2 separate regions of the Homo sapiens genome follow, and region 1 is reported to be linked to region 2. The links are microRNA targets in miRTarBase. Many come from high-throughput screens and were not tested one by one. Region 2 holds a microRNA gene; the other region holds the end of a gene's coding sequence.

Region 1 (12,317 bases), not on the chromosome of region 2:
TTGGTTTCTCTTTTTCTGAGACATGGCCTGGTTCTCTCACCCATGCTAGAGTGCAGTGGCACGGTCTCGGCTCACTGCAGCCTCCGCCTCCTGAGCTCAAACCATCCTCCCACCTCAGCCTCCCGAGTAGCTGGGACTACAGGCATGTGCTACCACACCTGGCTAATTTTTGTATTTTTGATAGAGATGGGACCTCACTATGTTACCCAGGCTGGTCTTGAACTCCTGGGCTCAAGTGACCCGCCCCCTTCACCTCCCAAAGTGCTGGGATTACAGGCATGAGCCACTATGCCCAACCACTGGCTATGGGATTCTAAGAAAGTATAATTTCTGTGAGCCTCAATTTCCTGACCTATAAAATGTGATTAATATTATCACCTATTACGGAGTGTAGTAGGGGTTAAATGAAATAATGCTATTTAAAGTACTTGGTTCAGTGCCTATCAAGCACCAGTTAAGTGCTTGATAGACGTTAGCTATTATTAGATGTCTTGGAATGCTTGGAGTGTAAGGGAGGGAAAAAAGTGATAGCTAAGCTAGGTGTGATAGTGTGAGCCTATAGTCCCAGCCACGGTCCCAGCTACTCAAGAGGTGGAGGTGGGAGGATCATTTGAACCTAGGAATTTGAGTGCAGCCTGAGCAACATTACAAGACCCCATCTCAAAAAAAAGTGATAACTGCTGTTTCTCCATGTCATTTCAGTATCTTTTCTATTTTAGACAATTTAAACAAGTTTACCTTTTTTTAAATTTCATTTCTAAGCTAAGAATTTTGAAATTGCTTTTGATAATTTTCTGTCAGAAATGGAGAAGGTAGAGGAGATGCCACATAAACCACAGAAAGATGAAGATCTGACACAGGATTATGAAGAATGGAAAAGAAAAATTTTGGAAAATGCTGCCAGTGCTCAAAAGGCTACAGCAGAGTGATTTCAGCTTCCAAACTGGTATACATTCCAAACTGATAGTACATTGCCATCTCCAGGAAGACTTGACGGCTTTGGGATTTTGTTTAAACTTTTATAATAAGGATCCTAAGACTGTTGCCTTTAAATAGCAAAGCAGCCTACCTGGAGGCTAAGTCTGGGCAGTGGGCTGGCCCCTGGTGTGAGCATTAGACCAGCCACAGTGCCTGATTGGTATAGCCTTATGTGCTTTCCTACAAAATGGAATTGGAGGCCGGGCGCAGTGGCTCACGCCTGTAATCCCAGCACTTTGGGAGGCCAAGGTGGGTGGATCACCTGAGGTCAGGAGCTCGAGACCAGCCTGGCCAACATGGTGAAACCCCATCTCTACTAAAAATACAAAAATTAGCCAGGTGTGATGGTGCATGCCTGTAATCCCAGCTCCTCAGTAGGCTGAGACAGGAGCATCACTTGAACGTGGGAGGCAGAGGTTGCAGTGAGCCGAGATTGCACCACCGCACTCCAGCCTGGGTGACAGAGCGAGACTTATCTCATAAATAAATAGATAGATACTCCAGCCTGGGTGACAGAGCGAGACTTATAGATAGATAGATAGATAGATGGATAGATAGATAGATAGATAGATAGATAGATAAACGGAATTGGAGCCATTTTGCTTTAAGTGAATGGCAGTCCCTTGTCTTATTCAGAATATAAAATTCAGTCTGAATGGCATCTTACAGATTTTACTTCAATTTTTGTGTACGGTATTTTTTATTTGACTAAATCAATATATTGTACAGCCTAAGTTAATAAATGTTATTTATATATGCATTCAAGTTGTACTTGTCATCAGTTTGGGGGAATCCTTATGCTAAAAGCTATGTCTTCTCTACAGGAAAAAGCCCAGGTTCCTGTCCACTGAGCCACACTGCCCACCAGACCACAAACTCAAATCAGACTTTAAAACCCTGCTCAGCCACTTATCACCTGTGAAACCTTTAGCAAATTAATTAACTTTTTTATGCCTCATCTATAAAGTAGGAGTAGAAATGGTACCACCTCGTAGATAATATGGAGGAGTTTCTGAGCCAATACATATAAAGCATTTAGGACAGTACCTGCTATGAGTAAGTATTTAGAAAATATTAGAAGAGAGAAAGAATCTCACATATGGAGGTCTCATAATGAATTAAACATTACCACCTTTTTATAAAATCAAGCTTTTTTTTTAGTATCTACATATTGAAAAGTGTAAACTTAGTAAATACTACTTATTTTAAGACTATGGAAAAGGACCTTTTCTTGGATGGTAAGAAGTTGCTAAAGGCATCATGCCAGACATGATTTTAACTAAAATTAAGAATATATGATATAATTAAATATTTCCATGATAAAAGGATTGCATCCAAATGTTTAAAATCTACTTAGAATGACATCAGTAATAATAATGGTTGCCTTTTATCTGCTACAGGTAATGAATAATACCTGCTACATAGATCTAGAATGACTAAAGGTGATGTCTCTTTTTTCCCCCTACCTTTTTAGTTTTAGAACTTTAGCAGACTAAGGCTAAAGAAATACCACAATCAAATGGTCCCAACATAAGCATGTCTGGCAAGGCCTGTGGTATTGGGGAATGAACATGAGCTTTGGAGCCACACACACTTGGGTTTAAATTCTGGCTCTGCCACTTCTCCCCTAACAAAAGCCCAAAATCTTACTGAGCCTAAGTTTTCCTATTTATAAAATAGAAAAGATGGGCACAGTGGTGTGCACCTACAGTCACAGCTATTCAGGAGCCAAGGCAGGAGGATCACTTGAGCCAAAGAGTTTAAGTCTGTAGTATGCTATGATCACACCTGTGAATAGCCATTGTACTCCAGCCTGGGCAATACAGGGAGACCCCATCTCTTAAAAAAATAATAATAACAGTAGCTAAAATAGAAATACCTGCCTTGTGAGGTTTAAAGGTACTATTGTATTTGTGAAGTGCACGGCATTTAGAAGGCATTCATTAAATAGCTCTTGTTATGGCTTTGATCCAAAATTGATAAATCTTCCTCATTTATTAAGAAGGTATGTAATTTGAGACCCAGCACAATGGCTCAGGCCTGTAGTCCTAGCACTTTGGGAGGCTGAGGCAGGCAGATTGCCTGAGCTCAGGAGTTCGAGACCAGCCTGGGCAATATGGCAAAACCCTGTCTCTACTAAAAATACAAAAAATTAGCCAGGCATGATGGCAGGCGCCTGTAGTCCTAGCTACGCAGGAGGCTGAGGCACGAGAATTGCTGGAACCCAGAAGGTGGAGGTTGCCGTGAGCCGAGATCATGCCACAGCACTCCAGCCTGGGCGACAGACGAGACTATCTCAAAAAAATAGAAGCTATGTAATTTGTTATTTGGTGCCAAGATACAGATTTCTAGCTTTGAGTCAAAAGCAATGTACTTATCACCCTGTAAAGTTAAGCACATTCACCTACTTTAAAATTGTAGTAAAATATATGTAACAAAATACGCTATCTTAATCTTTTTAAAGTGTTTATGGTTAAGTATTATGTAGTCACTTTGTTTTGCAACCAATCTCCAGAATTTTTTCATCTTGCAAAACTGACTTAACCATTAAACAACTCCCCATTCCTCCCCACATCCCCTGACAACCACCATTGTACTCACTCTCTCTGAATTTGACTAAGGATTCATATAAGTGGAATCACAGTATTTGTGACTGGCTTTTTTCACTTAGTATAATGTTCTCAAGATTGTCCATGTTGTAACGTGTCAGAAGTTACTTTTTAAAGCTGAATATTCAGTTGTATATACCACATTTTGTTCATCCATCAGTGTGACACGGGTTGAGTAATGCTGCTATGAACATGTGTGTACAAATACCTCTTGAGGACCCTGCTTTCAATTCTTTTGGGTATACACCCAGAAATGGGATTGCTAGATCATATGGTAATTCTATTGATTGACTGATTGAGATGGAGTCTCACTCTGTCGCCCAGGCTGGAGTGCAGTGGCGTGATCTCAGCCCACTGCAAACTCTGCCTCCCAGGTTCAAGCAGTTCTCCTGCCTCAGCCTCCCAAGTAGATGGGATTACAGGTGCCCACCACCACGCCTGGCTAATTTTTGTAGTTTACTTAGTAGAGACAGGGTTTTGCCATGTTGGCCAGGCTGGTCTCAAACTCACCTCAGGTGATCCACCCTCCTCAGCCTTCCAAAGTGTTGGGATTACAGGCGTGAGCCACCACACCCAGCCTCTACTTTTAAATTTTTGAGGAACTGCCATAGAGGGTATACCATATTACATTCCACCCACAGTTCATAAGGATTCCAATTTCTCTACATCTTTGCCAACACTAGTTATTTTCTAGTTTTTTTTTTTTTAATAGTAGCCATCCTAATGGATGTGAGGTGTTAATGTCATTATGGTTTTAATTTGCTTTTCCCTAATGATGAGGGGAAAGATGTTGGGCATCTCTTCATGGACTTGAATAGACATTTTTTAAAGAAAATATACAAACAGCGAATATGCCCCTTTTTGAATCAGGTTGTTTGGTTTTTGTTGTTGAGTTGTAGGAGCTCTTTATATATTCTAGATATTCACCCTTATCAGATATGATAGGTAAATATTTTCTCCCATTCCTTAGGTTGCCTTTTCACTCTGTTGATTATGGCCTTTGATGCACAGAAGCTTTTAATTTTGATATAGTCCAATTTATGTTTACTTCTGTGGTCTGTACTCTTGCTATCATATCCAAGAAATCATTGCCAAATCCAATGTCATGAAGCTTTTCCCTTGTTTTCTTCTAAGAGTTAAATGGTTTAAGCTCTTACATTTAGGTCTTTAATCCATTTTGAGTTAATCAGGCACATTCACTTTTAAATTACCCTGTTAAGATGTGATTCTGATAAATCTAAAATTTCTGAGCCTTGTTTAAATAGCATATGAGAATAAATATAAGTAGTATTGTCTGTTTTTTCTTTATGCCATGAAAGCAAGTAATGGTAATTATTTTTATTATTTGCAATATAATATGTACTTAGTTATTTTTTAAATTAGTTGGGGAGTGGAGGAATTACCTTAAAGCAGTCTTGTCCAAATGCCCTCCTAGGAAGCCTTTCTACAGTTTTCTAACACAATTACAATCCCAGTGATGAATGCCGTGATGGTTAATACTGAGTGTCAACTTGATTGGATTGAAGGATACAAAGTTTGATCCTGGGTGTGTTTGTGAGGGTGCTGCCAAAAGAGATTAACATATGAGTCTGGGCTGGGAAATATCCACCCTTATTCTGGTGGACACAATCTAATCAGCTGCCAGCAAATATAAAGCAGGCAGTAAAATGTGAAAAGGAGACACTGGCCTAGCCTCCCAGCCTACATCTTTGTCCTGTGCTGGATGCTTCCTGCCTTCGAACGTCGGACTTCAGGTTCTTCAGTTTTGGAACTCGGACTCGCTCTCCTTGCTCTTCAGCTTGCAGACAGCCTATTGTGGGACCTTGTGATCATGTAAGTTAATACTTAATAAACTCCCCTTTATATACATATATATACACATATTACATATATATACATATTACCTATATACATATTACATATATCTATATATATCCTATTCTGTCCATCTAGAGAACCCTGACTAATACAGATGCTTACTAGTTAGTGAATTCGTGTGTTTCAGTACTGTTATTATAAACACTTCTTGGAAGCTCACTTCTTTAACCGTTCTTCATGGTTTATTTAACTGATTAAAAAGTTTTTTTGTCATGAATGTTTTCAAATACATACAACAGTAAAGAGGACAGTATAATGAAACCCATACACATCACCTAGACCCAAGTTATTAGATGTTGCCATACTTGCTTAACTATACCTTCCTTTTTCTCTGAAGTCATCTAACCACATTGCCAATATCACACCTCACAAAATTAATAGTAACTATCATCAAATGTGAAATTCATAATCTAAATGTCTCAAAAATATCTTTTTATTGCTTGCTCAAATCAGGGTCAACACAAGGTTCACACTTGACATTGAGTTGTGAATTTTTAATTATAAATGTAATACATGCGGGCCAGGCGCAGTGGCTCACACCTGTAATCCCAGCACTTTGGGAGGCCGAGGTGGGCAGATCACGAGGTCAAGAGATCGAGACCATCCTGGCCAGCATGGTGAAAGCCCATCTCTACTAAAAACACAAAAATTAGCTGGGCGTGGTGGCGCATGCCTGTAGTCCCAGCTACTTGGGAGGCTGAGGCAGGAGAAATCACTTGAACTCGGGAGGTGGATGTTGCAGTAAGCCAAGATTGCGCCACTGCACTCCAGCCTGGCAACAGAGTGAGACTCCATCTTGGAAAGAAAAAAAAAAAAAGGAATACATGCTCATTGTAAAAAAAAAAAAAAAAAAGATTCAAAAGGTTCAGAAAGATAAATGAAAAGTGGAATTCCCCCTCTCCCAATCACCCACTTTTCACACTCCACTGTTAAGTTTCTTGCATATCCTACGGTTTTTTAATGCACATATAAGCATATGTCTCTTCACAAATGGGATGATACCATATATACATTCTATAATTTAAGAAAAAATGGCTTTCAGTATATCTAGATCTATCTATAACAGCTGTGAGGTATTCCACTACATGGATGTGGCAAAATTCATTTAACTAAAACCAAACTAATAGGCATGTGTTGGTTGTTTTTACTGGGCCATTAGCAACAGTGCTATAGTAAACATCATTTTGAATAAATCTCTATACAATTGTTCAAGTACGGAGGGATAAATTTCTAGAAATAAAATTTCTGGATGAAAGAAAGCATGGGAATGACTTTTATTTGGATACATATCCATCAAAAGTGGGAGAATGCCATTTTCCCCACAGCCTCACCAATTCTTCACCAATCTGACAGGTGGAAAAAGTGTGCCCCAACTACCTTTTAGAGTTTCTCTGCCCAGCAGTTTCCAGTGACTGTACATGCAAATGGAAAAGTCCCATTAGAAATAGTTGACCCAACACAGTTGCAATCAAGTATTTGAGCTAAGTACACACCAGCAAATTACTAAAAATATCCAGAAAAACTCAAGCTTCATAAAACCTCAAATTTCAAAAAAAGGATGCTAAAATCCACATAGGTCACTTGTGTTGGCCTGGCCTAAACAGACCCCTCAAAGGAACTTTGGAGGGAAATTGTTTCTCTAGGTAAGGAATAACAGCATAAAGGGAAAAAAATTAAAATTGTTAGATACAGGATTCTCTCTAGATCTGCCCTGTCCAATATAGATGCCACTAACCACGTGTGGCTATTAAACACTTAAAATGTGGCTAGTGCAACTGCAGAACTGAATTTCTAATTTTATTTAATTTTAATACATGTAAAAGTGGATACTTCAGTTATTGGAAAACAGTGAGTTATGTTTCAAACAACTTGAGTATGTAAATACATTTTCCACAGTAAGTTTTAAGAAATCTAAATACAGATTAAGTACGTCTGATGAAAACCTAGCATCTGAATTGACAGGTTTTTTTTTGTTTTGTTTGTTTGTTTGTTTTTTGTCAGGGGTGGGGACAAAGTTTTGCTCTGCCACCCAGGCTGGAGTGCAGTGGTGTGATCTCAGCTCACTGCAACCCCTGCCTCCTGTTTAAGTGATTCTTGTGCCTTAGCCTCCCAAGTAGCTGGGATTACAGGTATGCGCCACCACGCCCAGCTAATTTTTATATTTTTAGAGATGGGGTTTTACCATGTTGGCCAGCAATCTGCCCACCTTGGCCTCCCAAAGTGCTGGGATTACAGATGTGAGCCACCATGCCTAGCCTTGACATGTGTTTTTAAGTGTAAAATATACCAGATTTTTGAGACTTAGTATGAGAAAAAGAATATAAAATATCTCTTTTTTTTTGAGACGGAGTTTTGCTCTTGTTGCCCAGGCTGGAGTTCAATGGTGTGATCTTGGCTCACTGCAACCTCCACCCCCTGGGTTCAAGTGATTCTCTGGCCTCAGCCTCCCTAGTAGCTGGTAAAGTATCTCAATTTTATGTTGATTACATATTGAAATATTTTTGATACACTAAGTTATATAAATTATTAAAATTGGCTTTCAATGGGTTTTGTTAGAGAAGCTACTAGAAATGTTTTAATTATGTGTATAGCCTGTACTATATTTTTGTTGGGCAGTGCTGCTCTAGATATGGTAATTAACTGTCTTTTTCTGGGGAGATGTTTCATAGCATTCTCCAGAATCTTAAGTCGAAAACAGGGTATGAACCACAATAGAACTATAAAATATACTCTCTAGCTCCTTCTGGAGGCTGCCCTCAAAAAACCTTTTAAAGAAAGATAACTGACATTTAAAAAATAAGACATTTTACCAAATCACTATCACTGTCTCATCAAAGGACAACTTTCAGCAGCTGTGTCTTCTGATGTTCATTCTTCAGCTGACCAACTTGGAGCAGGCCTAGACTTGCTGGTATTGAAACTGTTAGTTCCCAACAAGGGTTAGCCTTCCAGAGGAAACTTAACAACTTGAGAACTGCAGCAGCAGGATAACCTCTCCACCTGCCTACCTCTCTGTCAAAAAGCAAGAGCCTCTGTTACAGGACAAAAATCCTGAAAGGTAGTGAAACTGTTGCATGTCTAATTAAAATCTAAAATTCACAACATTGACTAAAGCTGCTCACCTGAGGCCAAGCACAGTGGCTCATGCCTATATTCCCAGCTCTTTGGGAGGCCAAGACAGGTGGATCATCTGAGGTCAGGAGTTCGAGACCAGCCTGGCCAACATGGCAAAACCCCATCTCTACCAAAAATACAAAAATTAGCTGGGCGTGGCAGCACACGCCTGTAATCCCAGCTACCTGGGAGGCTGAGGCACAAGATCACTTGAACCCGGGAGGCAGAGGTTGCAGTGAGCCAAGAACACACCAGTGCACTCCAGCCTGGGTGACAGAGGAAGACTCTCTCAAAAAAAATAAAAAACTAAAGCTGCTCACCTGAGGAAAAAAATGGGAATAGCACAAAAATCATGTAGAAGTAAGGAAATTTTAAAGATTGTATATTTTTTCATAATAAAGTACTCCTTTAACCATTTTACAAGTTGGTAAAGTATCTAAATATACATGTATACAAGTTCGTAAATGTGTTAGTTGAAGCTGGGTGTGGTGGCTCACACCTATAATCCCAGCACTTTGGGAGGCTGGGGCAGGTGGATCGCTTGAGCTCAAGACCAGGTTGGGCAACATGGCAAAACCCTATCTCCACTAAAAATACAAAAATTAGCTGGGTGTAGTAGCGGGCACCTATGGTCCCAGGTACTCATGATCGCCTGAGCCCAGGAGGCGGAGGCTACAGTGAGCCAAGATCACACCACTGCACTGCAGCCTGGGCAACAGAGTGAGACCCTGTCTCAAAAAAAAAAAAAAGTGTTAGTTGCTTGCCATGTTGAGAACAGTATGATTTCAGTGAAGGGATGACAGGGCTACTCTAATGCATATAGAAAAGTGTTTAAATGTACAGTGGACCCTTGAACAATGTGAGGGTTAGGAGTGCCTACCCCCTTGCAGTAGAAAATCTGAGTATAACTTTTGTCTCCCCAAAAACTTAACTACTAATAGCCTAATGTTGACTGGAAGCCCTATCAATAATATAAACAGTCAGTTAATACCCATACACACATATGTGTTCGTGTGTGTGTGTGTTTGTGTGTGTGTATATATACATATACTGTATTCTTTTTTTTTTTTTTTTTTGAGACGGAGTCTTGCTCTGTTGCCTAGGCTGGAGTGCAGTGGTGCAATCTTGGCTCACTGCAAACTCCACCTCCCAGGTTCAAGCAGTTCTCCTGCCTCAGCCTCCAGAGTAGCTGACATTACAGGCATCCGCCACCACGCCCCACTAATTTTTGTATTTTTAGTAGAGATGGGGTTTCACTGTGTTGGCCAGGCTGGTCTTGAACTCCTGACCTCAAGTGATCTGCCTGCCTCAGCCTCCCAAAGTGCTGGGATTATGGGCATGAGCCACCACACCCAGCTTATATACTGTATTCTTACAATAAAGTAAGCTAGAGAAAAGTTACTAAAATCATAAGGAGGAAAACATATGTTTACTATTCATTAAGTGAAAGTGGATCATCATAAAGGTGTTCATCTTCATCATCTTCCTGTTGAGTAGGCTGCAGAGTGGGATGAAGAGGAGAGCATGGTGTTGCTGTCTCAGGGGTGACAAAGGTGAAAGAAAATCCACATTTAAGTTGACTGCAATTCAAACCCTGTTCAAGGGTCAACTGTACATGTATATAGAAAGTGTATGTGTAGAGTGACAACATTGAGAGTGCTACAGCCTGAGGCAGCAGAAGAGCAGCTTTCCTTTATGTCTCAGGATGTATCATTTCTGTGTTTCTCAGAAAGCGGAACCTCATTACATTCTTATCTCTTTCATAAATTGCCTATCAGCTTCCAGACTTACAAGACCAGAAATTTATAACTAAGACAGAGGGGTTAAGACAGGCAGAATTAGGAGAGAGGTGGAGGTGTGTGGAGATTTAAAAAGCACAGTCAAAATGATCACTTCTTTGATTTGGCTATGAGAGTTGACATATTTTGACATTTCAAGTGATGCTGATTCTCAAAAGGGAGCATAAGTTAAAGCAAGTTTGAAGATCACTGTCCTAAATCCACATGGCTTAACACAAGAATGGGGTAGTACAATAAAATGTCAGCTCACACCTGAGCAAATCAAAATTCTAGGAATTCTTTGTACTGGAGGAGATAACACTGAATAACATGGCCCCTGCAAAGTAGTCTACTGAGTTCCTTAATCAGTGTGAGTTTAGAATTTAAATTCGACAGATGCAAAGTACCTACCTAAAGCATCCCTACACTTACCACCAAAAGTAGGTATATTTGAAAGGTACTCAGAGCATTTCACACGTAGTGATCTTACAAGGCAGAAAAAAACGTTCTTAGGAAGCTTCTTTACAGCCACTTTTCATCCACAAGGAAGGCAGCAGCCATAACCATTTTTACAAAATAAGTGGAATCAATAATACCAAAAAGCCAAATTATTTAAATGTTTGAGTCATCTCTTCACTTCACCACTGGCCTCAGTAATTTCTGGACCCATTGGAGCAGCAGAGTTGAAGATTAGGGAGAAGTTGGAAATTTCCTTAACCTGTTGGCAGCAGTCACCACATAGAAATGTTTCTTGAGGCAAGGAGAGAATAAAAGAAAAGAAAAAGCATGTATTTTAGACCAGTTGCCTTATGAAGAAACAATAAAAGGATTTAAGTGAGTCCAGCCACTGGGGTTGGTTTAAATCTGATACCTAAAGGGAAACAAGTTTCTAAAATAATTATAGAATAGTCACATGACTTTCAGGGGCATGTTGGGAGTAAATATGAAGTGGGAAGATACATCATCCTGCCCTCTTTTTTTTCTTTTTTTGGGGAGGGGGTAGGGGGGTCAGGATGGGGTCTGGCTCTGTTGTCCAGGCTGGAGTGCAGTGGCGTGATCTTGGCTCACTGCAACCTCTACCTCCTGGGCTCAAGCAATCCTCCCACCTCAGCCTCCCAAGTAGCTGGGACTACAGGCAACCACCACCACGACCAGCTAACTTTTGTCTTGTTTGTAAAGATACAGTCTCACTAGGTTACCCAGGTTTATCCTGCCCTTTTCACATGAAAAATGGAGCACCCTAGAACAGTGTCTTATTTTTATTTTTCATCAGCCTACATCATGCTTTGATAGAACAGTGTTTTTCAAATTGTGATTCACAACCGAGCAATGGGTCATGAAATCAAATTGGTGGGTTGTGAACAGCATTTAAAAAATAAAACCAAGTGGCACAGAATAGAAAATATCAGAATACATCATATTCTGTTAGAGAAAATGTTGTGATTTTTTTTTTAAACAGAGATGGGAGTCTCCCTCTGTCACCCAGGCTAGAGTACACTGGCGTGATCACGGCTCACTGCAGCCTCAAACTCCTGAACTCAAGTGATCCTCCCCATTCAGCCTCCCAAATAGCTGGAACTATAGGTGCAGGCCACCACGCCTGAGTCAAATTTTTGTTGTGTGTTTCCCGGTAAGTGTGTACATGTATAGGTATTCTTGTGTACTGGCTCCATACATAAAGGGTTTTGTTTGTGCTTTTGGATCCCCAGTGAGGATCTAAGTCCATATTAAATTGTTGGAAGCCACTTCCCTGGATCACAATTGCTTTTAAGATAGGTTTTATGTCCATGGGACTAAAGAATTCTGTTGTAAACAAAATTATAAAGTTTTAAAAGTTTAACAGGCCTTTCTTATCTCCCATTTCTGAAATGTGGAAGAATCAGGCCTCAAGCTCTAAGCAGTTAGTTCAGGAGCTTCACGATGATTGCCACTGAGAACATATGCTTAAGCTTCATTCTGT
Region 2 (15,689 bases):
GCCTTCAGATGCAGCCCAGAATAAGAGTTCTAGAATGTGTGTGCCATCCTTTTGTCTCAATCTGCATGATTGCAAGTCTCTTCAACATGATTGGGTGCGTGGAGTGTCTCGGTCATGTGTCTTCCCCTCTGAGCATGCCTTTTGATTCGCACCTGTGTCACAATTGTGCCAGCCTGTGAGATGTGTCTGCCTGTCACCAGTATCGGCACATTTAGTTTTCCCTTTACGTGAGTTTTGGTAAAATAGTGACAAAATGTAATGCAGTGCTCAGTCACAGAAAAATGTCAGGCCTACAGAAATGGAGCATTTGGCTGGCGGGTAGCGTGATGACCATAGGCTTTATTTGGCTGGTGTGGTAAACAAGCAGCAGCTTGTGCAGGTGAGAATAAATGGCCATATTGCATTTCATTTTAAGGACTCCCTTAAAATGAAAATCTTCGTGTGGGACATGAACACAGGCTTTCACGAAATTGATCATCTACACTATATGTATGACTGTTGAAAGGCTGTTGTTCCTCAGAAATTCTTAAAATGTTATGTAATGTACATGAGTCCCTTCAGGAAGTCATCAGCTTTGTTCAGTTTCCTCAGATTAGATAGTAAAACTGAGATTATGAACTATAAAGATGTGTGTAATTTATCTGTCAGTGAACTTGACTTTAATAAAAGCTTTTTGAAAAAGAACTCTGGGTGGGGTGCATTGGCTCACACACATAGTCCCAACTACTGTGGAGGTCAGGGCAGGAGGATCACTGGAGCCCAAGAGTTCAAGATCAGCCTGGGCAGGATAGCGAGACCCTGTCTATAGAAAATATTAAAAATCAGCTAGGCATGGTGGCTTGCCCTTGCATTCCCTGCCACTTGGGAGGCTGAGGTGGGAGGTTCGCTTGAGCCCAGGAGCTCAAGGCTGCAATGGGCTGTGATCGAACCACTGAATTCCAACCTGGGTGACAGAGTGAGGCCCTGTCTCAAAAAGAGAACTCTCGATGTCACTGGCTTTCCATGTAAGCAGAGCACATCATGTGAGCCCCATTCGTGGATGTCAGTCAGCAGAACAGAATCTTGGACCTGGAGCTTGTTTGTCCTGTGCTAGAGGTTGGAGGTGTCTCTGTCTTTCTGTTGGTTCCTGTCAGTTCAGGTCACTTAGAGATTCTGTTACATACACCAGCTCTGACAGGTTGGGGGAGATGATCAACCTTCCGCCTGCGCCTGTTCCCTTCCCTGACTCATGCCAAAGTATCCCTGAGATCTGCAAGGGACCGAGGACAGTACTGGCTGGTGGTCTGGGTACAGGCCACAGAGGCATCTGGACCCCATGTGCATCTGGACCAGTTTGGTTGGATCCATTCATGGACACAAAACGGATGTGAACTCACAGAGCTACATTTTCTCCCTGCCCCTGTTCAGGCACAGTGAGGTGTCGGGGAATGTAGCTGCCAGAGTTGACTGTCCCGTTCTTTGGTGTAATGCCTGAAGGCCACCTTTACCATTGGTCTGTGGTCCTCACTGAAGAAAGAAACATTCTTCCTAAAAGACTTTTTTTCCTCAGAGTTGGAGCCCACAGCGTGGTCAGGAAAGAGAAGTAGCCACTGGTGGCTCCTGGCATCCTCCTGCTGGGCAGCCCCTTCTCAAAGTGTGAGGGGTCCCCTTGTGTACAAGCAGGAAGGCTCTGAGAAAGTCAGGTTTGCTCCTACCACAGGATAATTCCGATGAACCTGAAAAGCGGGTTTTGGCTTGTGTGCAGGGACTCTGGTGGAAGAAAGGGTGACAGCACCTGGCCTGGGCATGACACAAGTTAGGACCCGTACCAAGAGGCCCTGGAATTGAGGGTGGGGGTTGCTGTGGACTCTTTCTCCCTCTTAGGAAACTCTATTGGGTCTCCATCTGTCACAGAAGCAGTAAATGATGTAGGGGCTGCCAGGTATAGGGTCCTGTGGGGATGCTGGAACATGCCGAGGCAGGACGTGCCAGCCACCCTCTGCCCATATGTGCAGCAGGGCCACAGATGTGCTTGTCGGTAGGAGAGACCAAGCTGTCTGTGTGCCGATGTCTTGACACCTGAGACTTCAGGTTCACCCATCCTGGTTCTGCCATTCCATTGCAGGGTGGCTTCCCTCCTTTGGGGACTCTTAACGCTTTGGTCTGTTAAAAAAAAAAAAAAAAATCCGGGCGTGGTGGCTCACTCCTGTAATCCCAGCACTTTGGGAGGCCGAGGTGGGCTGATCATCTGAGGTCAGGGGTTCGAGGCCAGCCCTGACCAACATGGTGAAACCCCGTCTCTACTAAAAATAAAAATAAAAATTAGCTCAGCGTGGTGGCACGCGCCTGTAGTCCCAGCTACTCGGGAAGCTGAGGCAAGAGAATCTCGAACCTGGGAGGCAGAGGTTGCAGTGAGCCGAGATCGCACCTGAGAGGTTGCAGTGAGCTGAGATCAAGCCACTGCACTCCAGCCTGGATGACAGAGTGAGACTCTGTCTCAAAAAAAAAAAAAAAAAAAAAAGCCACCAATGGGGAGGGCCTGGGATTACTGGCATCACAAACCCCACTGCCTGCAGGCTGCATGATCTCCTGGGCATGGTTGGCGGCACTGCCCCGGGCATGAGGAGGCAGCAGGCATGTGTGGATCACGGACAGTGCTGGGGTCGAGGGGGTTGGTGACGGTGTGACACCCCTTCCCCTGAGTGGCTGGGTGTTACTGTCAATTCTCCCAAGTGCTGTGCTTCAGTGGTCGTGGCAGTCTGGTGCTGCCTCTGCCCAACTGGCAGGCGACCCTTATTCCTGAGTCCCTGCTGACTTGGTGTCCTAGGTTTATTCCTCCTAGACTTGTTAACTTGTACAGTTAACAAGCCTTTGACACCACACACCCTCGCCTCAGCTTTCCAACCCCCTAGTAATAACAACATCAGGACTCCCTGAGTATCCTCCACCATATGTTTTCCTGGAGTAACTCATAAAAGGCCCTCTTTTCGTTCCATTTCATGCTTGGGTTTTTCATGCGAACCTGTCATTATTAGTTTTTCCGCATTGCCTAGAGTTGCCCAACCCCATAATAAGAATACGTAGGTGGCGTGCCCCATTCTTGCAGGTGTCCACTTCCTGCTCCAGTCTGAGGGGGTTGGCTAGGCTGCTGCTCTCTCTCCATGTGGGGTTGGCTAGGCTGCTGCTCTCTCTCCACGTTGCTGTGGGCTCGCATCCTCTCCCTGGTTCCCTGGGGGAGCTTCTTAGGGAGGGAGCATGTGAGAGATCTGAGGCCCTGCAGTTTGGGAGTTATTTTCATTCTCCCCTAACACTTGTTGGATACTTTGGCTGGGTATAGAATTAAAGGGTTTCGAAAGCAGTGTTTCAGAGTCTTCCATTCTCTGGGGCATCAGAGGTGTCATTTGCCCCTGTGCATTCTGGAGTCCACCTTGCACCTTTATTGGGTCTCATCTAGGTCCTTGGCTTTGCGCTTCAGCCCTTTGAGGCCGAAGCCCAGATTCCTGGGTCCCCACTCTGGAACAGGGAAAAATTTCACCCCGTAATTTCGTACGTTCTTTCTTTTTAGGGTTTCTGTTGGTTGATATCTTAAGTTACTCCTCATCTTCCTTTTTCATTCTGTTTGTTTTTGTTCTGCCTTCTGAGCACCTTCATTTTGAATTTTCCTTTTCAGCTATTTGTGTATCTATCAGGTTTCTCTCCTTGTCCTTTGTTAAAATAGTATTCTGTCTTCAGTCTCCTGTCTTGGTTGCCTCCTTGCAGATTCCTTTTATATTTGGGTCTCTTATGTTGGTGGCCTTTCAAAGGCAGACAGGCCTGTCTCTTGGTGGGGGGTGGGGGTGGGCGGAGCTCCAGTTGCTTGTGTGTGGATCTGCTGGGGCATATAGAACTCTCAGGAATTATTCTGGAATTTCATGGCTCAAGTGTGTTGTCATGGCTCAGCGCAGGCCTAAGCCCTGCTGCAGCTGCTCCCCTAGACCAAGCTTGTCCAACCCTTAGGCCGCATGTGGCCCAGGATGGCTTTGAACCCGACCCAACACAAATTTCTAATAAAACATTGAGATTTTGGGGGTTTTTGTTTTGGTTTGGTTCACCAGCTGTTGTGTTAGTATATTTTGTGTGTGGTCCAAGACAATTCTTCTTCCATTGTGGCCCAGGGTAGCCAAGATTGGACATTGCTGCCCTAGGCAGTCCCAGCTTCATCCCTTGGGTCCCAGGCGGTCCAGTTTTCTCTGCCTGGTCAATCATCACATCCAAGGTCTTCCTCCCTTTTCTCTCTGCCCTTCAAGGCGTGTGTGTCATTTTGGTGTCTTCATTGGTAGTGGTTGCAGGAGTGGACTGAGAGGGCAGGTATTCAGTCTCTTCTGTGCTCCATGGGTGGTGGTCTTCCTCTGGGCTTAGAAAACCTGGCCGTCCCCAAAAAGGGAACACTACAGTGAAGGTCCTTATAAATTTCAGAACTCATTTAAATTTCAGAATAGGTGACATGTTCAAAACCAAGAGCAAAGTGTCCAAAGGACACTGATCCAGCTTGAAGGGGTTCTGTGGCTCATCTGGGATGATGGCAGTGTTAAATCAGACACGGGCGGCCAGTTCACACCCACTGAAACACACAGGCATGTGTGGGCTCTTGCTGATGTTGAGAAATGGAGAAGAGGCATTTCCTTGCCGTAGCGTGCTGGGGTGACTGGATGAGAGAGTCACCAGCGGACAGTCATGGCTGTGATTCAGCCAAAAGCCACCTGTGTGTGGAACCCCTGGTGGAGGAGGTCTGATGAGGGGTGGGTGTGCTCACAGGCTCCTGGCATGTCCTCTTGAAGGCAGAAGCCTTCCTCACTCGGGGTAAGCCCCGCTTGCGGGTGCAGTGAAGAAGCAGTCATTGTTTCAGAAAGTGACCAGTGTTTTCTAAAGTCCCTGTTCGGGATAAAATCACCTGATTCGTGAAATTGCCCACTGGCCAGTGAGGCCAAAGCCTAACAACTTCAGTGTCCTCACAGAGGCGTCTGGGCAGTGGAGGCCCTTCCTGCTGGAGTCTCCGCAGGGCTCTGATGGTGGGTGCCAGCTGACTTAATTGCTGTCCCCGATATTTGTGTTCTGCTGAGGGAACCCCTACCCTTGCGGTGTGGGGCAGACATGGCGGGCGTGCCCCATCGAGGCTGTGTCCTCATGGGAGTGTGTCCCTGAAGGTGTCCTGCTGAGTCTGGCGTGGCCCTGTGTGCTCTGGTCCTTGTGAGTGTGGGCAGGCACAGTGAGTGGTGCTCTCTGGCCCTGGAAGGTTCTGTGTTGGGGTGTAGAGGAGCCTTGCACGCACCTGGAAGCCAGTCCTCAGGCAGCCAGCCTCCCCTCCTGCATAGGCTGGGATGAGGCAGCCTTTCTGGCCATGCAGCTGTGGGGACAGCTTCCCAAGATGAGGGCAACAGTTTCTCAATTCCTGACTCAGCCATTTTCCCTCAGCCCCCATCCTGAGGTGGATTTGGGGGGCATGGGAGGCAGGGCTCTTTCCCTGTTTCCCTGCAGGCTTCCAGGAGGTGGGGTGAGGCAGTGGTGCATCCCTGGGTGGGTGGGTTCTGAGCAACCACTGCTGGGCAGCACAGAACCAGACATGGAGCACCTTGTCTCTCCAGGTGTCCCTGGCCAGTGTCCTTCCACCTGTCCACAAGCATGGGGAACATCTTCGCCAACCTCTTCAAGGGCCTTTTTGGCAAAAAAGAAATGCGCATCCTCATGGTGGGCCTGGATGCTGCAGGGAAGACCACGATCCTCTACAAGCTTAAGCTGGGTGAGATCGTGACCACCATTCCCACCATAGGTGAGGTGGGGGCCAGCAGGGAGTGGGCTGGGCTGGGCTGGGCCAAGGTACAAGGCCTCACCCTGCATCCCGCACCCAGGCTTCAACGTGGAAACCGTGGAGTACAAGAACATCAGCTTCACTGTGTGGGACGTGGGTGGCCAGGACAAGATCCGGCCCCTGTGGCGCCACTACTTCCAGAACACACAAGGTAAGTGGCTGGGGCCTGGTCCCATGGGCACTCCTGCTTCTAGAGAGGGGGGGCCAGCCCATAGATGGGGCATCGATGCCCATAGATGCGGCAGGGGGGCTGTGTTCCCATGACCATTTGACACTGGCTGCCCGGCAGGCCTGATCTTCGTGGTGGACAGCAATGACAGAGAGCGTGTGAACGAGGCCCGTGAGGAGCTCATGAGGATGCTGGCCGAGGACGAGCTCCGGGATGCTGTCCTCCTGGTGTTCGCCAACAAGCAGGTAGGCGCCCGGGCCAGCCTGGGGAATGTGAGGAGCCAGTGTGGGTTCCGCCTGGTGGTAGGGGTTACTGGAGGCTGGTGGGGCCCCTTTCTCTGTCCTGTGGACAGCCCTTCCCACCAACCCTTCCTTCCCCCAGGACCTCCCCAACGCCATGAATGCGGCCGAGATCACAGACAAGCTGGGGCTGCACTCACTACGCCACAGGAACTGGTACATTCAGGCCACCTGCGCCACCAGCGGCGACGGGCTCTATGAAGGACTGGACTGGCTGTCCAATCAGCTCCGGAACCAGAAGTGAACGCGACCCCCCTCCCTCTCACTCCTCTTGCCCTCTGCTTTACTCTCATGTGGCAAACGTGCGGCTCGTGGTGTGAGTGCCAGAAGCTGCCTCCGTGGTTTGGTCACCGTGTGCATCGCACCGTGCTGTAAATGTGGCAGACGCAGCCTGCGGCCAGGCTTTTTATTTAATGTAAATAGTTTTTGTTTCCAATGAGGCAGTTTCTGGTACTCCTATGCAATATTACTCAGCTTTTTTTATTGTAAAAAGAAAAATCAACTCACTGTTCAGTGCTGAGAGGGGATGTAGGCCCATGGGCACCTGGCCTCCAGGAGTCGCTGTGTTGGGAGAGCCGGCCACGCCCTTGGCTTTAGAGCTGTGTTGAAATCCATTTTGGTGGTTGGTTTTTAACCCAAACTCAGTGCATTTTTTAAAATAGTTAAGAATCCAAGTCGAGAACACTTGAACACACAGAAGGGAGACCCCGCCTAGCATAGATTTGCAGTTACGGCCTGGATGCCAGTCGCCAGCCCAGCTGTTCCCCTCGGGAACATGAGGTGGTGGTGGCGCAGCAGACTGCGATCAATTCTGCATGGTCACAGTAGAGATCCCCGCAACTCGCTTGTCCTTGGGTCACCCTGCATTCCATAGCCATGTGCTTGTCCCTGTGCTCCCACGGTTCCCAGGGGCCAGGCTGGGAGCCCACAGCCACCCCACTATGCCGCAGGCCGCCCTACCCACCTTCAGGCAGCCTATGGGACGCAGGGCCCCATCTGTCCCTCGGTCGCCGTGTGGCCAGAGTGGGTCCGTCGTCCCCAACACTCGTGCTCGCTCAGACACTTTGGCAGGATGTCTGGGGCCTCACCAGCAGGAGCGCGTGCAAGCCGGGCAGGCGGTCCACCTAGACCCACAGCCCCTCGGGAGCACCCCACCTCTGTGTGTGATGTAGCTTTCTCTCCCTCAGCCTGCAAGGGTCCGATTTGCCATCGAAAAAGACAACCTCTACTTTTTTCTTTTGTATTTTGATAAACACTGAAGCTGGAGCTGTTAAATTTATCTTGGGGAAACCTCAGAACTGGTCTATTTGGTGTCGTGGAACCTCTTACTGCTTTCAATACACGATTAGTAATCAACTGTTTTGTATACTTGTTTTCAGTTTTCATTTCGACAAACAAGCACTGTAATTATAGCTATTAGAATAAAATCTCTTAACTATTTCACCGGCTCTCCAGTGCTTCCACACAGGCATGCTGCCCCCAGGAGATGGTGGGTGCATCAGCCAGCTTTACTCTAGGAAGTACAGGTGACTGCCTAGGGCCGCCACCTCAGTCCACACCCTCCCCATGTTCCCTCCTGAGTGTGCAGGCACTTCTCTGTGTCTGTGTGAGAGGCTCTTCCAGCATGGTTGCCCACAGTGACCTTGATCTCGTTTGCAGTCCTGTCGGGCCCAGCCAATGAGACCTGGGCCATACAGGGCAGGGGTCAGCAGGCACCATGGAAGACCTCAGCCTCCGTCCTTCCCTCCATCGGCCTGCTGCTGAACCCCACTTTGTATAGCTGGCTATGGGGCAGGGCCACTGCTAGCATACATAGGGCTTTGTGCCAACCAGGGAATGGTCCCTGCCTGAGTGGGCACAGCCCCCACCTCTCCTCAAGATGCCATGCAGCAGGGGGCTGCCAGTCTGGGGGTACCTGTTTCTGGGATGGGGCCATCAGCAGGTCTAAGGTCTGCCTTCTGTTGGGCAGAGTCCCAAAAGAGAGGGCTGCCCTGGCTAGGTGGCCCAACCTTCATCCCCCTTGACAGCACCCAAGACAGCACAGTCTCTACTCCAGTAGCCACCCGAGGGTGAGGGCAGAGGTCAAAGCCACAAGCTACACCTTGGCCAGGGCCCTGAGGAAGGTCTGCATAACTTCCCTTGAAATCAGAAACAGGCCAGGTGAGGGAGCTCATGCCTCTGATCCCAACACTGCAACGCTGCATTGAACTGTGATGCAGCCCAGGTGCCATCTGTCTTTATGCCATGCAGCCTGGTGGCCGCACACATCCTGAACAGCCCTGATCCTTCTTAGGGTCAGGCAGAAGGGACACCCAGCCCACTGCCTCTGGAGAAGCGGAGCTGAGGGTTGGGGTAGCAGGCAGTTGGAGGAGCTCCCCAACCCCCACACCCAATTGAGGCTGTGCCTCCACAGACTGCAGTCTTTGACCTCACCTGTCGCAGGGATAGGGCTCCCTGCCCCAGGTTCCCACATTGCCAGCTGAGCACCTGCTTCCAGGGCCTCAGCCCTCCCTGGGTTTTGGTGGGGGCTCTGGGCACACATGGGAGGACTACATTCCCCCAGGACATTAAGAATCAGATGGGCACCGGGGCTCACACCTGTAATCCCAGCACTTTGGGAGGCCAAGGCGGGCGAATCACCTGAGGTCAGGAGTTCAAGACCAGCCTGGCCAACACGGTGAGACCTCGTCTCTACTAAGAAATAACAAAAATTAGCCTGGCGTAGTGGCAGCGCCTGTAATCCCAGCAACTCAGGTTGAGACAGGAAAATCGCTTGAACCCGCGAGGCGGAGGTTGCAGTGAACTGAGATCACACCATTGCACTCCGGCCTGGGCAACAAAAGTGAAACTCAAAAAAAAAAAAAATCACCAGGTCTCAGACTCCTGGGAGACAGACCCCAGCTCCGACGTTCCAGTGGGATCTCATTAACCCCTGATACTGACCTTCCAATTTGATATACCTTCCTTTTAAAATATATTTATTGAAATACAAAGAGTCAATATAAAGAAAAATAGAGGTCACCATACTTGGCCACAGTTAGACCGCTCATAGGCCCATGGCTGCTGCAACCATGGGCAGGACACAGAGGGAGTCCAGCCTCTACTGATAAATCTGGGCAGGTTCACCTTCGCAGGCCAAGCCAGGGGCCATCCCTGGTATGCGAAACCTGGAGGTTTTCCAGGAAGCCGGCTGCTCCAGAGCTAGCTGTCAAGTCTTTAGCCCCACAGGCTGGTGCCCAGAGCCACTTCCACAGGAGCAGCCTCGGGCTTCACCCACACCCAAGGAGCTTCCGAGGCAGGAGGCAAGCAAGGTGAAGGGAGGGTTCAGGGTCCCACAACAGCAGTGAGCAGGGTCCAGCCATCAGGCCTCAGAGCCTCTGTCATGCCACCTGCGAGACGGGCTCCTCCTGTCCCCACTGTGTCCCCGCTTCCTCCTCTTACAGCAGGGGGAGTTGGAGTCGGAGTCATGGTGGTGGTGCCTGGGCCTGGGGAGACCAATGGCAGTCAGTCACTCGGAAGGAGTCAACCAGGCCCCCACCCCCAAGAGGCAGATATGGACCAGGGCATACCTCTCAGGAGATGTGGGAGAGGAGGTGGCCTCAGCTGGCCGCCTGTGCTCTTTGTCTTTCTTCTTCTTCTCTTTCTTGTGTTTCCTCTTTTTCTTTTTCTTCTTCTCCTTCTTGCTTTTCCTGTGGCTCTCACAACTACAAGGAGGATACAAGGTGTGCCTCAGACCCTAGTCTTGCAAGCCAAGAGAGTGAACACAAGCAGGCCCCATCCAGATGAAGCCACCACCCACAAGTGCGTCTTTAAATCAGTTAAATCAAACTACAAATTCCACTCCTCAGTTACGTAGTCACGTGGCCAGTGGCTACGTGGGTTAGAAACAGATGCAATATCCCCATCTCCACAGCACGCCCCTGCCCCACCCCAGCCGTGCCCTTGGCAGGTTGACACCTTCCTACCTGCACCCACCAGGCCACTCTTAGGGTCAGGCCCAGGCTCACCATCCAGGAGAAGCCCTGGAGGTGCCACCCACGGCAGGAAAAGGCCCCGCCCCAGGTCCTGAGTGCCCTCCCACGGCACAGCGCCCGACCACTGCCAGTACTTAGGACCTCTCTTCAAGGGTGACCCGAGAAACTCCCCTAGAGAAAAACCTAGGAGTAACTGGGACAGGAAGTAAAGTAGGGCAGGCCACCCGCCGGGCCGGTGCGCCAAGAGAAGCTGCCACCTGCCCGAGTGGGAGCCGCTCCGGTCCTCCCGAGACCCCCCACCCCGGGGCACAGCTAGCCCAGGTGGCACAGCCTCACCTGCTTTCCGTCTGATCCTCCGCCCGCGGCTTCCTCCTGGCCGAGGCTGCCGAGGTCCCGGGCCCGCCGCTCTCTACGCGGTGATGCTGCGGGAGAAGCGAGCTCTGCGGAGGAGTCTGCGGGCCGGCCCCACACCACGCCCCGCAGCGCCCCGGGGAGCTCCGTTCAGTGCCCCCGCCCCGCCCCACCCCTGTTAGCCCCTGCTGCGGTCAGGCGGGGCGGGGGATTACCGTGAACACAGACAGCCCCAGTTTGGCGGCCTCCTTGTCCTCTCGGGACATCGCCACGCGGCCCACGGAGCCACTGCAGGGACATGGCGATGAAGACAGTACGGCAGGGGTCCGCCTCACCCGAGCAATCGAGCCCAGTGCTGCCCTCCCCTGGAAACCCGCCCGCACCTTGCGCTCCCCAGCCCCAGCAGCCGGTCCACGCCCTTCTCCTCGGGGTCGCCTCCTTCCCGCTTGCAGACCTCCGCGAAGTCCTGCAGGTGCGAGAGCACAGGGAGCGCTCGAGTCGGCCCCACACCCACGGCCCTCCACGCGCCCCCCACCCCGGGGAGTTACCTCCTTGCTCAGGCCCGTGGGCTGCTTCTTCACGTTCTTGTAGCCACTGCGAGAGGGCCGGGGCAGGCGTCAGGACGGACGGACCTCCTCCCACCACAGGTCCTCACCACTCCAGCCTTCGTCCTCAGGGTCCCGCCCGCGCGAGTCCCCGCAGCCCCGCTCCCGCCCAGCCCGACCCCCAGTCCCCGGCCCCGGCCCCACCCTGCCCCGGCAGCGCCGTCCCAGGCACCGACCGCTGCCGTCCGCGGACACTCACAGGGCGGCCAGCAGCGCCTCGCGCTCCGCCTCCCGCACGGCTGCCAGTTCCTCCTCGCGGCTCGGGCCCGCGCATGGCGCCCGGCCCTTGGCGTACCAGGTGAGGTCGCGGCCCTTCTGCCAGCGGCCTACCGGCGCCATCAGCGAGTTGCCTGCGGACGTAGACGCTGTGAGTCCAGCGCCCGCCCGGGATCCCGGAGCCCGGAGCCCGGAGCCCGCCCACCGCGCGCACCCACCCAGGTAGTTCTCCCGCTGCTTGTCAGTCTTCACGTCCTCCCAGTTGAACTGGTCCTGCCCGCCGCGCACGCCTCCACGACTGGAGCCGAACATGGCGCCGGGAAGGCAGTTGCCTGGGGCCTGCGGCTTGCAACCTGCAACCCGCAACCCGAGACCCGCTACCCACTACCGTCGGACCCAGGCCCGACCCCGCCTCCGCGTCGCGCGCCGTGACGTCACTCCCGCGCCCACTCGGCTTCGCCGCGCGCCTCTGCGCAGCGCACTGCCCCGGATCTGTGCTCCCGCGCATCACCTCCACGTCGGCTTTGGGCGCCTGCGCACTGCGCCTACCCTGCCGGGCGCGGGAACGCCTCTGAACTGGAAGTTTAAAAATGGTTAAAACGGGGCCGGGCGGAGTGGCTCTCGCCTGTAATCCCAGCAAGTTGGGAGGCCGAGGCGGGCGGATCGCTTGAGGTCGGGAGTTCGAGACTAGCCTGTCCAACATGGTGAAACCCGGTCTCTACTCAAATACAAAAATTAGCCGGGTGTGGTGGTGCACACCTGTAATTCCAGCTACTCAGGAGGCTGAAGCAGGAGAATCACTTGAGCCGGGAGGCAGAGGTTGCAGTGAGCCGAGATCGCGCCACTGCACTCCCGCCTGGGCGACAGAGCGAGACTGTCTCAAAAATAAGAAGTTAAAATGGGCCAGGCGCGCGCGCGCCCCTGTAGCCCCAACGCTTTGAGGCTGAGGCGGGAGGATCTCGAACCCAGGACTTCGCGCCACTGCACTCCAACCTGAACGAGTGAGCGGACCCTGTCTCATAAAAAAAGAAAAAAGAAAACACACAAGATGCGCCTAGTTAACACCGCCAATTGGTCACTGCTAGTCGCGATTCCATATCGGGAGCTTAACAAGGTAATGACCTTAATGATTTGTGGAATTTCTGAGTATTACCCAGTAAACTTCTGGATGAACCAGCAGCTACCCAGACACCCTCAGAGCACTGGTCCTATCCCTGCCGTGTTAAACTGAATGTGCACCCTAACTCCCATGTGAAATCCTCACCCCAAGGCGTTGGTGCTTCGGAGGTGACTAGGTCATGAGGACAGAGCCTTCATAAAAGGGACCCCAAGAGCTTTGTGCAGCTTTCTACTGTGTGAAGGCAGCGGGAAGGAAGTCTGCAGTCTGGAAGAAACCCCTTACCAGAACCTCAGCGTGCTGGGCACCCTGATTTTGGAGGTTGTGACGTACCCCTGCTTCCCCTTTCCACTTTCATTCCCAGTGCTGACTGAGAAACAGAGTCCCTTGGCCACTCTGTGACTTCGCCAACTGTATAATTTCCTCTGCAGACTTGAACCCGAGCCATAGCCATGAACGTTCCCAGGCACAGATGACAGTAACTAGGTTGTTGCTCAAAACACAGAAAGAAACTGGACTCAGCCTGAGCCAGATTCCTCAAACCCTCATATAAATTCCATTCACCAACCCCCTCCCCCACGGACATACCTAGAGAGAACTTCATTTCTCTCACTGCCTATTGCAAGAACTGCTGCAGCCCACTCTGTACAAAAGCCCCACGAATAAATGCTCTGGGCGAATCACCCTGGCATGCTCAATCTGTAGAATCCTAACCAGCCCCATCTCAGGATGGTGTGGGGCACTCCCTTGTGGGAACTCTACTGCCACCACTTTTGGGGCAATTCCAGCCACAGGTTGAACTGGATGAAATACAGGTCTACTGTCCTGTGGGAAATTTCTGTTTCTTAGTGACCCAGTCCATGGGTCAGGCTGTTAGAGCAGGCTGGCAGACAGCCACACGTCTGGCTCATCTATCTACTTAGCAAGTACTGGCTGCCATCTCCCTCATGAGGCACTGCATGAGCTTTCATCATGGAGCAGGTGCATGGCGAGGGCAGAGCAGCAGGCCACAGCCAGGCACACAGAAGGTGACTGGCCGACTCCCAGGAAGGCTCCCTGGGGTGTAGGGCATCATCTCCTGGGTGCCATTGCAGCTTGCCAGGCCAGGGTGGACTTGGGCCATGTGGGCAGGGCCCAGCTGTGGAGTCTGACCACTGACTGGATGTCAGGTGTGGTGGAGAGGGGATAGCAGGGCCAGGTGGACATTGGGCAGGAGTCCAGGACGGCTCTGAGGCTCTGGTCTGGGCAACTGTGAGGATGAAGCAGCCACCTGTCAACATGAGGACCAGGTTTGTGGGGAAGACCTGGTCAGTTTTGAGCCCATTAGCCTGACAAGCCGTAGGCCACAGGAGGAGGGGTCACCAGGGTGGAGGTTGCATGGCCTGTGCCTGCTGGGTGGAGGCCCAGCTGGGGGCACTGGTCACAGTGGTGTCCTCTGTGACAGCAGCGAAGCTGGACCCAGGAGGGTGGCGGTCAGGGAGTGGAGGGGCAGTGGAGATCCCAGGGGAACCCACTATAGTGGGAGGAGGCTGGGTAGTGGAGGGGGGGGGCCAAGTGAGTGCACAGAGTGGCCGGGCAGCTGGCTCTATATGCCACAGGGATTGAGCCACAACTTCAGAGACGGGGGCTCCAGGGAGGCTGCTCAGGAAGTAACCCTGCAAGGCAGAGTCCCAGGCAGCCACACAGCCCATCCACGTGAGGTCAGGCACTGCTCGGTCACAAGGACAGGGGCAGGGCCAGAGGACATCCCTTGCAGGCTCTTCTCAGCAGAGCTGAAGGCCAGCGGGATGAGCAGAGGGCCAGGAACAAGCTTAAGGGGCAAGGGATGGGCCTGCAAGGTGGGGACACTGCCCAGGCTCCTCAGTTATAAGCACTGTCATCACAGGGGCATGACAGAACACACTCCCACACCTCCCTGGCAATCCCAGAACACCACTGCAAGAAGTCTTTGTCGGGCACTCCAGGTGTCAGAGAGACAGCCTGCCAGGTGGGACCCAGTAACATCCCAGGACAGGGACAGGAAGCAGTCTGGGCCCTGAGCTGTCCAAAACCTGGGTTGTTGTGCGTGTGGAAGGTGCCTGCACATTAGCTGGAGCTGGTCCTGAGTTAAATCAGCCTCTGGACAGATGAAGCAGGGTCCGTGGATCTCCCTGGGCTGTGTGTAACTGCAGTGCTCTGCAGACCCCATTAAGAGTCAAGGACAACCAGGGCTGGCTGCTCCTCTGGGGACCCTCCCAGGGCAGGACCTTCCCTGGGGCAGCCTGGGAATGCAGGGCCAGGGCAGGGAGCTGCAGGCTGTGGTCCAGATGGTCCTAGGACTGCCCCACCAAGGTTGATGCCTGAGTCCCAGAACACCCAGCCCCTCCTAGGAACCAACCTGAGGGCCACTGTGCTGTCAGAAGGGCAGTCACCTTGGTGCCCCTGAGGCTGGGAGGGCAGAGCTTAGAGCTTGGTGGTGTTGGGTACTGCCCACATGGTTGTCCACGTGCACCACAGCCCCAGAGCAGTGTCCAAAACCCACAGGTTTGATCTACACCAACCCTCACCCTGCTAGTCCACTGAGCTCTCTCTGTGCTTGAGCTGATGCCTTTCAGGGGATGAGCTGCCAGTCTGGGGCACACACCAAGTGGGGAGACAGACACAGACTCCAGGTGGCAGCTTCAAGAACGAGTGATTTAAGAACAGCCCTCCCATCTTAGCAATGTCCCGGGGTGGCTGGAGCCACGGTCACTTCTTGGTCCTGGTCCAGAACTGTCGGTAGCGCTCCACATGCAAGTCATCACTGAGCTCCTGCTCGTACTCCTTCCTCGACTGGAGCTGAGCCTCACGCTTCCGCAGCCTGGCCCGGCGCTCCTCAGGAGACAGGGTGTCCAGATCTATGGGCATCTGCAGGGGACAGACCAAGTTTCGTCCATGTGGATCGAGGGACCTTGAGAGCTACTGGGGGGACAGCCCAAGGCCTTCCTCTCAACTTACGTCTTCCATCCTATGCTAGCTTAATTTTCAAACATTCTTATTGGTCTCTCCCTTCAAAGCTTTCAATCTTTAAAATAAATTGTTCTGTGTTTTCCCCAGATTTGATGTTTTTAAAAACACACAAGGCCAGGCATGATGGCTCACTCATACCTGTAATC

The links. Region 2 holds the annotated microRNA hsa-miR-3620-5p (GUGGGCUGGGCUGGGCUGGGCC, at 5,808-5,829, shown strand). A microRNA usually pairs through its seed, bases 2 to 8, with sites in the 3' UTR of a target mRNA and lowers its output. Matches are read on the target gene's strand: a 7mer-m8 pairs with bases 2 to 8, a 7mer-A1 pairs with bases 2 to 7 and ends in A, and an 8mer does both.
Region 1: miRTarBase lists ORC6 as a target of hsa-miR-3620-5p. The part of its 3' UTR that is shown has no 7-base or 8-base seed match.

The regions. Positions count from the first base shown.
Region 1 is chr16:46,696,657-46,708,973 of GRCh38, forward strand. It overlaps ORC6 (origin recognition complex subunit 6), which reads left to right. Exons shown (of 7, transcript NM_014321.4): 7 at 802-1,738. The coding sequence ends at 929. MYLK3 (myosin light chain kinase 3) reads right to left here. Exons shown (of 13, transcript NM_182493.3): 13 at 5,626-11,107. The coding sequence ends at 11,048. Among named protein-coding and RNA genes, the nearest start is that of ORC6, 13 kb to the left of the region's middle.
Region 2 is chr1:228,091,478-228,107,166 of GRCh38, forward strand. MIR3620 (microRNA 3620) reads left to right here and starts at 5,786; the gene lies at 5,786-5,864. ARF1 (ARF GTPase 1) reads left to right here. Exons shown (of 5, transcript NM_001658.4): 2 at 5,601-5,785; 3 at 5,865-5,975; 4 at 6,114-6,238; 5 at 6,375-7,735. The coding sequence starts at 5,638. The coding sequence ends at 6,536. C1orf35 (chromosome 1 open reading frame 35) reads right to left here and starts at 11,848. Exons shown (of 8, transcript NM_024319.4): 1 at 11,657-11,848; 2 at 11,422-11,572; 3 at 11,166-11,211; 4 at 11,001-11,083; 5 at 10,833-10,905; 6 at 10,603-10,688; 7 at 9,862-9,996; 8 at 9,254-9,777. The coding sequence starts at 11,750. The coding sequence ends at 9,654. It overlaps MRPL55 (mitochondrial ribosomal protein L55), which reads right to left. Exons shown (of 5, transcript NM_181463.3): 5 at 15,208-15,441. The coding sequence ends at 15,283. RefSeq lists enhancers at 4,733-5,702, 5,703-6,672, 5,759-6,958, 8,544-8,783, 9,894-10,614 and 3 more and silencers at 10,683-10,762, 11,013-11,182, 11,343-11,612.